2 linked regions of the Homo sapiens genome follow. The protein of the gene in region 2 purifies or fractionates together with the protein of the main gene of each other region. This does not show direct contact. Each region holds a gene or a part of one and is shown on either strand. Other genes may lie near its edges.

What was found.
Region 1: the proteins of NIT2 (region 2) and SUCLA2 fractionate together in Homo sapiens (co-fractionation; one large-scale study listed by BioGRID). This does not show direct contact.

The regions. Positions count from the first base shown.
Region 1 is NC_000013.11:47,991,274-47,994,773, reverse strand, and holds part of SUCLA2 (succinate--CoA ligase [ADP-forming] subunit beta, mitochondrial precursor), read left to right. Parts: intron 1-3,500. UniProt on the Homo sapiens protein: ATP-specific succinyl-CoA synthetase functions in the citric acid cycle (TCA), coupling the hydrolysis of succinyl-CoA to the synthesis of ATP and thus represents the only step of substrate-level phosphorylation in the TCA.
Region 2 is NC_000003.12:100,332,494-100,338,203, reverse strand, and holds the start of NIT2 (omega-amidase NIT2), read right to left. Parts: upstream 3,448-5,710; 5' UTR 3,413-3,447; coding exon 3,406-3,412; intron 1-3,405. UniProt on the Homo sapiens protein: Has omega-amidase activity. The role of omega-amidase is to remove potentially toxic intermediates by converting 2-oxoglutaramate and 2-oxosuccinamate to biologically useful 2-oxoglutarate and oxaloacetate, respectively.

The DNA.
Region 1 (3,500 bases), on a different chromosome or scaffold from region 2:
TGGAACAGATACCTTGTTCATTTAGAAAGTGTGTTTTTTGTCAAAGAATATTGCAAATGATGATTATAGTGTGGGAGGGAGACTAATAATTAACAAGGAAATTTAAATCTAGAGGAGCAGAAATGCTAGTTTTTAAAAGATAAATTTAGAAACGTCTATGAAAATATGGAGGACAATTTCGTGGTTTTTTTTTTTTTTTTTTTTTTGAGACGGAGTCTCACTCTGTCGCCCAGGCTGGAGTGCAGTGGCGCGATCTCGGCTCACTGCAACCTCCGTCTCCCAGGTTCAAGCAATTCTCCTGCCTCAGCCTCCTGAGTAGCTGGGATTACAGGTGCCCGCCACCATGCCCAGCTAATTTTTGTATTTTTAGTAGAGACGGGGTTTCACCATGTTGGTCAGGCTGGTCTCGAACCCCTGACCTTGTGATCCACCCGCCTAGGCCTCCCAAAGTGCTGGGATTACAGGCGTGAGCCACCGCACCCAGCCCAATTTTGTGTTTTTAGTGAGTCATTGATAACAAAAGATAACGATTATGGGATCTAGTTGCACAAGGTGTAGAATGAGGGACCTTAGAAATACACTTGGTTTTGTTCATGTAGCTAGCAATTCCCAATGCTGAGTTTTCATTACTTCAGGGTGATTTTTGCTTTTTGACTTTCTGCAAAATTCATAAAATGCTAATTTTCATTTCATAAAAACTCTTTTTTTTTTTTTTGAGACGGAGTTTCGTTCTTGTTGCCCAGGCTGGAGTGCAATGGCGCCATCTCAGCTCACCGCAACCTCCGCCTCCTGGGTTCAAGCAACCTCTGCCTCCTGGGTTCAAGCAGTTCTCCTGCCTCAGCCTCCTGAGTAGCTGGGATTACAGGCATGTGCCACCACCCCGGCTAATTTTGTATTTTTAGTAGAGACAGGGTTTCTCCATGTTGATCAGGCTGGTCTTAAACTCCCGACCTCAGGTGATCCACCTGCCTCACCCTCCCAAAGTGCTGGGATTACAATAGGCGTGAGCCACCAGGCCTGGCCTTCATAAAAACTCTTAACTCAGCGCTTTGCTCAACAAGTGACATAATAGAACATAAATGCTTTACAGGTGTGCCAAACTATTGTTTCTTCCCAGTCCTGTGGTGGCAGGAGAAGTTGAGTTAGCATGGGGTTTGGGGCCACTGAGCCTCTTTACCCAGTATTTCCTACCATGTCCATCATTTTCTGTTTGTGTGATGATGTGAAAAAAGTTGAGAGGCATTGTCCTGTAGGCAAGTTTTACCTGCTGTGAATAATTGAGGTTAGGAATGGAGGAATGGTTAGAAAGAAATCTAATTCTAATATTTTAAAAGACTATATGAGTCCCCAAAATGAAGGTTGGTGAGCTTGAAGATCATGAAGTTTCTGGAATAGATTATCAAAGGGATGGTTATTAGCACAGATAAATGTAGTAGATATTATTTGGGGTCAGTTCTGAGAGCAAATTATCTCTAACAGTTCATAGTTCAAGGAAATATGATTTTAGTAAGGGTTTGGCAGAATGTTTGTTGTTTTGTTTCTGAGACAGTGTCTTGTTCTGTCACCCAGGCTGGAGTGCAGTGGTGTGATCATGGCTCATTGCAGCTTCGACCTCCTGGGCTCAAGCCACTTCTCCCGTCTCAGCCTGCTGAGTAGCTGGGACTATAGGTGTGCTCCACCATGCCTGGCTAATTTTTGTATTTTTTCTTGAGATGGGGTTTCACCATGTTGCCCAGGCTGGTCTCAAACTCCGGGGCTCAAGCCTTCCACCCACCCTTGGCTTCCCAAAGTGCTGGGACTACAGGCGTGAGCCACTGCGCCTGGGCACAGATTTGGCAGAATTTTTATAATTTCCCTATTGACTATAGAAAGATAGTTTGGCTTCTAGTATATTTAAGGTGGAATCCCTATCTGGTTGAATAGATACATGTAAAGGGTGCTGATTAATGAATGTCAGCCCGGAGGGAGATTTCTAATGGCATATAATAGGACTTTACCTTCTTTCTTTCTTTTAAATATTTATTAGTTAGATACCTGTATACAAGGAATGCTTAAAATGTTTGTGAGTGACTAAAGGTAGCTGGGATAGTGATTGTGTTTTAGAGACAGTCTTGGGATCCAAAAAAGATCTTGTCTGACTAGAGCAGTGCCAAATGTAATAAGACTGCAGGTTCTATGAGGGCAGGAGAGGTCTCACTCACTGTTGTATCTACAACGCTAGCACAGTGTCTGGTATGTAGATGAACCTGTTGAGTGAATTAATGGAATTGAATAAAATGTTTGTTTCGACCAGTTGTCCTCAGACTTCTCTTCTAATCTTTCTTCCTTTCTTGATAGTTGATGAGACTGTATTTCATGAAAAATTTTTTTTTTTTTTTTTTTTTTGCTTTCGTTGTGAAGGGCTTTTTTTTTTTAGAAGGAACTTTCGAAGAATCATCTTTTGCCCTTAAAGACTTTATATTCCTAAAGAAAGGAAATTGACACTTTGCGGGGAAGAGAAGAACCTTCTGTCTTGCCAAGTGTTTTTGAAAAAATAGAGCTTCGTTACTCTTAATAGGTCAATGTGTTAAGTTCCCAGTTTAATGAATAGGAATGATTGAATTTAGCTCAGTAAAGCACAGTGTAACTATGACCATTTTTTACATTACATTTGCACTGTTTGCCTTGTAGTTCTCTTCTTCGGATATAAACAAATATTTAAAGTGCTGGAAAATCAGGACTGGACAGGTAAACAGAAACAAGTGGAATAAATAGTGGCTGCTCCCTTCCGTTTGGGCACAAACTCTCTAATTTGCCATGGTTCAGAGACAACCTGTAGTATTCTCAATAAGAACGTTATTGTTGGTTTTAAGGAAATTTCTGAGTTGTTTCTATTTGTTACCTAATATTAGTTGTGATACATTTGTGAATAGTAGAGACAGGGTAATTGAAAAGGGTTTGTCTTATCTAAACAAGATACTTTTTCTAATCAGCTCTAGTTGTAGTACTGTGCACCCAGTTTTTCCCATTGGGAGTTTTCGTAAGAGCAGTGAAGAAATCTAGATTTATAAGAATTCTGTTCATATTTTTAAATGTTCCTTTTTTTCAACATTCAGCAAAATATTATGTGCTAGGAACTCTCCCAGACGCTTGTTAACATCTATGAATACAACAAAGATTCTGCCCTCCTGGGCCTCTTTTCTGATGGGGAAGCAAAACAACAAATGATATATGTAAGAGAATTACATATGTACGAAGATGATGAATTCTATGGCGGAAAGAAGTGTAGTAGGTAAGGGGGATTGGTCACAGGTGGGCAGGTTAGTAGGGTAAGCTTCATGGGCAACATGAGATTTAAAGAGAAACTTGAAGGATCGGGGGCTTTTCCCACATGGACACCTGGTGAAGAGTATTCTAGGCAGAGGGTGCATTAGAGCCAAGTCCTGAAGGCAGGAACATGCCCAGGAATAGTGAGGGGATTAGTGCAGTTGGAACAGAGTGAGCAACCAGGAGGGCCTAGG
Region 2 (5,710 bases):
GTTGGGGGCTCTTCCAAGCTTATTTCTTCCTGGAGGTAGTAGCTATACATCATATTTGCTTTTCTTCTGTTCTTTAAAGTTCCCTTTTAGCTTTTATGATAATCACTTTCCATTAGCTAATATTTTTTATTTTGAGGCAGGGCCTTGTTCTGTCGCCTAGGCTGGAGTGCAGTGGCACAAACATGGTCCACTGCAGCCTTGACCTACTCAGTTCAGGCAATCCTCTTGTCTCAGCCTCTTATGTAGCTGGGACCACAGGTATGCACCACCATGCCGGGCTAATTTTTTAATTATGTAATTTTTTGTAGAGACAGGGTCTCACTTTGTTGCCCAGGCTGGTCTCGAACTCCTGGGCTCAAGCGATCCTCCTGCCTCAGCCTCTCAAACTGCTGCGATTATAAGCATGAGCCACCACGCCTGGCCAGATAATAATTTTTTATATAAAATTTTCCGCCGGGTGTGATGGCTCACGCCTGTAATCCCAGCACTTTGGGAGGCCAAGGCAGGTGATCACCTGAGGTCAGGAGTTTCAGACCAGCCTGGCCAACGTGGTGAAACCCCGTCTCTACTAAAAATACAAAAATTAGCCAGGTGTGGTGGTGGGCACCTGTAATCCCAGCTACTCAGGAGGCTGAGGCAGGAGAATCAGTTGAACCTGGGAGTTGGAGGTTACAGTGAGCCAAGATCGCGCCACTGCACTCCAGCCTGGACGACAGAGTGAGACTCAGTCTCCAAAAAAATAAATAAATAAATAAATAATTTTCCTTGTTCGAGTTACTAGTGTTGTTTCCATGTCCTGTCTGGACCCTGATGGATACATAGTTCCTGCTTATGGTCTGGTGGGACGCAGCAGTAAAGGATCCAAAGCACATTATAATCTATGAAGCTCTGCAAAACTTCAGGAATTATTAGTGTAGGGAAAAGAAAGAGCGATCAGATTATTACTGTGTCTGTGTAGAAAGAAGTAGACATAGGAGACTCCATTTTGTTCTGTACTACGAAAAATTCTTCTGCCTTGAGATGCTGTTAAACTATAACCTTACTCCCAACCCCGAGCTCTCTGAAACATGTGCTGTGTCCACTCAGGGTTAAATGGATTAAGGGCTGTGCAAGATGTGCTTTGTTACAGATGCATGAAGGCAGCATGCTCCTTAAGAGTCATCACCACTCCCTAATCTCAAGTACCCAGGGACACAAACACTGCGGAAGGCCGCAGGGACCTCTGCCTAGGAAAGCCAGGTATTCTCCAAGGTTTCTCCCCATGTGATAGTCTGAAATATGGCCTCGTGGGAAGGGAAAGACCTGACCGTCCCCCAGCCCGACACCCGTAAAGGGTCTGTGCTGAGGAGGATTAGTGCAAGAGGAAGGAACGCCTCTTTGCAGTTGAGACAAGAGGAAGGCAGGCATCTGTCTCCTGCCCGTCCCTGGGCAACGGAATGTCTCGGTATAAAACCCGATTCTATGTCCCATCTACTAAGATAGGGAAAACCGCCTTAGGGCTGGAAGGGGGACAGGCGGGCAGCAATACTGCTCTTTAAGACATTGAGATGTTTATGTGTATGCATATCTAAAGCACAGCACTTAATTCTTTACCTTGTTCATGATGCAGAGACCTTTGTTCACGTGTTTATCTGCTGACCTTCTCTCCACTATTATCCTATGACCCTGCCACATCCCCCTCTCCGAGAAACACCCAAGAATGATCATAAATACTAAGGGAACTCAGAGGCCGACGGGATCCTCCGTATGCCGAACGCTGGTCCCCTGGGCCCCCCTACTTCTTTCTCTATACTTTGTTTGTGTCTTTTTCTTTTCCAAGTCTCTCGTTCCACCTAACGAGAAACACCCACAGGTGTGGAGGGGCAACCCACCCCTTCAATTAGTAATGGCCTGCCCGAACTTCCCATCCCACCTCTGCTCCAGAGTCTGAAAATCCTACCATTAGAGAGCTATCTCTTTTGGGTGTTTCCTGTAACAACGCAAATGTCTCCAGAAAAGGCAACAATGACAAACCCTGGCCTCTGATGAAGGCCTGTTTGGCTCAGGGTTAACTAAAAGGAAAACTCAGATGTCCCATTCCTTGATCTATCCTAAATATAGTGAGAAGCACTAAATTTAACCCTGAAGGCAGCCTGCTAAATAGTTATAGAATCTGAAGGGAAACTAAAACAGGAAATAAAAGCTGGGATTATTCTGGGGCAAACAGATATTTTGAGCTGTTATCAGAACAGCAGATAAATCCACTAAACGTCTCCCCTCCATTTCCCAGCGTTAAGCCATTCTCCCTCCTCAGCTTCCCAAGTAGTTTGGGACTAAAGGGGCGTGCCACCACACCGGGCTAATTTTGTATTTTTTAGTACAGACAAGGTGTCGCCATGTTGCCCAGGCTGGTCTCCAACTCTTGACTCGTGAACTCAAGCGATCCTCGTGCCTCAGCTTCCCAAACTGTTGGGATTACAGGCGTGAGCCACGTGCCGGGCCATGTCTGTGCTTCCGAGGGTGGGAAAGATAAAGCTCACCATGGCTACGCTGATGGCTTCCTCTCCTACACATCTCACCCACAAGGGCGGGGTCCTCAACTAAGCTTAGGACTGCCTATCATTCTGCAAATGACCCACTCTACAGACATGCTGCAGCAGGGAAACCCCGCCACTGGGCAGTTCCTCATGCTGAGGAGGAGACGCCCGTCACTCCATCTCATCTGTAAAGTGAAGACTTTTAAGGCTGCCCTAATATTCATCATAATCTAACAACGAAGACCTTACCAAGGGGCGGAAAAAAAGAATAAAATACTGTGAGCGAAGGAAACAACAAAGGAATAACATTTAAAGCAATGTGCCAGGTCCTTCACACATTAACATCATTGTGTGAGGTATCATTAACATCATTTTACAAATAAAGAAACAGGGGACTTGCAGGGGGAAAGCTGCACAAAGTCACTGAACAAAGTAAGTGACACAGCAAGAATCCAAGTCAAAATCTGGAGCTGGAAAGTGAGTGGGGAGACGAAGAACCGCCTGGGCACCTTTGTGCAGGGCGGGGCTGGAGGAGGTCACGCAACTTGAAAACACCCAAGGGAGTTGGATCCTACCACCGCGGCCCACACCGTGGAGAAATACACGTCCATCAGCCTCTGTCAAGCAGGACGCGGCGGGTGCCGGCGCGGCCGGGTGGCCTGGTGCTTTCTGGGCCTCGCCCGCCACCCCGGAAGCCTGGAATCCCGGGAGTGCGCCCGGCCGCCCGGCCACGCGATCCCGGACCCACGCGGACGCCCGCCTCAGGGAAGGCCGCGCACGGCGGGGACGCGGGGCGGAGGGGCTGAGCCGGCCGAGCCACCGCCGGCGCCGCTCCAAAGCCTCCCCCGCGGCCCGAACTCGAGCTGCAGCGCGCGGCCGCGCCACTTACAGGTCATGACTCTGCAGACAAGCACCACCTGCGGCGCGGACTGAGCGCTGGAGATCCGGCGGACCGCGGCGTCGCTACGGTGGGGCGGGGACCGCGTCAGAGGCCCCGCCCCACCCCTCCTCCTGGCCCCGGCCGGGAGGAGAGAAGGGTCTGCGTTCATTCCAGTGCGCCTGTAACACCAGGACGGACCAACGAGAAATGGTTAATTGCAACACAGTCCGGAAAAAGCATGCCTCGAAAGGCAAAGGGCAAAAGGGAACGGCCTAAGTCGAGGTGGTGTGCTGGTGAATGTCTTAACAACCAGACTTTTCAGGGAGGAAAGCCCTGATTTGTAGCGTTTGCTGATTCTCCGCAAAAGGACTGAACTTCTAGCTGGTTGAATCACCTCTGTGGCCAGGTTAACACCGTATGCTGATGGGCTTGAGCTATTTGAACAAGTCTCTGTGACGGGGACGGAATGACCCTGGTTGGTTTAGGCACGCGAGACGTCTGTAAAATCTGACTACAAGGCTGCTAGGCCAACGGGAAAGATGCTGAGGGTTCAACGCCATGCCCTCAACAAGTCAGTCCTCGAATACATTGTCATCTCTTTGCTAATATCCTTTTTTGTTTGTTTGTTTTAGACAGGGTCTCACTCTGTCATCCAGTCAGGAGTGCAGTGCAGCAGTCTCAGCCCATTGCAGCCTCAACCTCCCGGCTCAAGCGATCCTCCGTCCTCAGCCTCCCAAGTAGCTGGGACTACAGGCACACACCACCACACCTAGCTATTTCTTTTCCTTTTTTCTTTTTCTTTCTTTCTTTCTTTTTTTTTTTTTTTTAAGTTTTTTACTTTTAATAGAGGTGGGGCCTTGCTATTTTGCCCAGGCTGGTCTCAAACTCCTGAGCTCAAGACCCTACTGCCTTAGCCTCCCAAAGTGCTGGAATTATAGGCGTGAGCTGCTGCGCCCAGCCTATAGACTATGATTTTTGCATTTTTATTTATTAGATTGCTTTTTAATTTTCGTGTTTTGTGTTTTTGTGCCTTGTCAGACTTGTGGAACAAAAATCCAAAACTTAACCACCTTTTGGAATGCCCCAGAATAGTTTATACTGAAACAGATCTTGGTTTGTAAAAGAACACTATAAAAACATTTTGGGGGCAACTAGGGAGATTTAAATATGAACGAGATATTTGATGCTTTTCTGAATTATTTTGTGTGCTATAGTGTTGTGCTTGTGACAATTCTTTACTCTTAGAAAATGAGGAAGTATTAGGGATGAACCATCAGAATGTTTGACTTGAAAATCGTCAGCAAAAAGAAAACACATAAGATAAAGCAAATATGGCAAAATGTTAATTATTAAATCTAGGAGGAGGACACAGCTGTTCATGGTACTAGATTAAAACTTTGTAGAAGTTTAAAATTTTAAGCTTTCATAAAAAAAAATTGGGGGGAAATACATAGCAGTTATGGTCTTTCTGCAGCTTAAGAGACTATCTGGACTTGGCTTTGTAGCAGGAAGATCTTTAAAAACCTTTTCATTTCTGCTATGCTTATTAACCTATGAGGTTTCAGGGTCAACCTGTGGTCACTTACAACCTGTTAAAAAAATTCATCTAGATTTCCAAATTTATTGGACTAACATTGTAACTAATAGTGGTCCTAAACCTGGCTGGAAATGTTATTTGAAGTGCTTGTTCAAAATGCAAATTATTTCATTTTTTTAGAAGTGGATTCTTACAGTGTTGCCCAGGCTGGTCTCAAACTCCTAGGCTCAAGTGATCCTCCCACTTTGGCTTCAAAAAGTGCTGGCCTTATAGGCATGAGCCATGGCATCCAGGTGGAGATGCCCAGTAGGCAACCGGACCAAAGCCTCAAGCTCAGAAGATGTCTGGGCTGGAAATTGACTTGGGAGTCACCAGCAGTTTTAACTAAGAGGAAGCTCTGAATTTGGATGAGAACACACAAGCGGAGTATGAAAGGCACACGCAAAAGAAGAAGGGCCTGTGGAGCCTGGGAAGGAGCCATTAGAGGAGAAGGACCAGGCCGGGCGCCACTGCCTGGTGGAGGAACAGCTGTGTCCTCCTCCTAGATTTAATAATTAACATAATCCCAGCACTTCAGGAGGTGGAGGCAGGTGGATCAAGAGGTCAGGAGCTCGAGACCAGCCTGACCAGCATGGTGAAACCCCGTCTCTACTAAAAATGCAAAAATTAGCTGGGCGTGGTGGCACACACCTGTAATCCCAGCTACTCAGGAGGCTGAGACAGCAGAATCACTTGAACCTGGGAGGCGAATGTTGCGGTGAGCCGAGATTGTGCCAC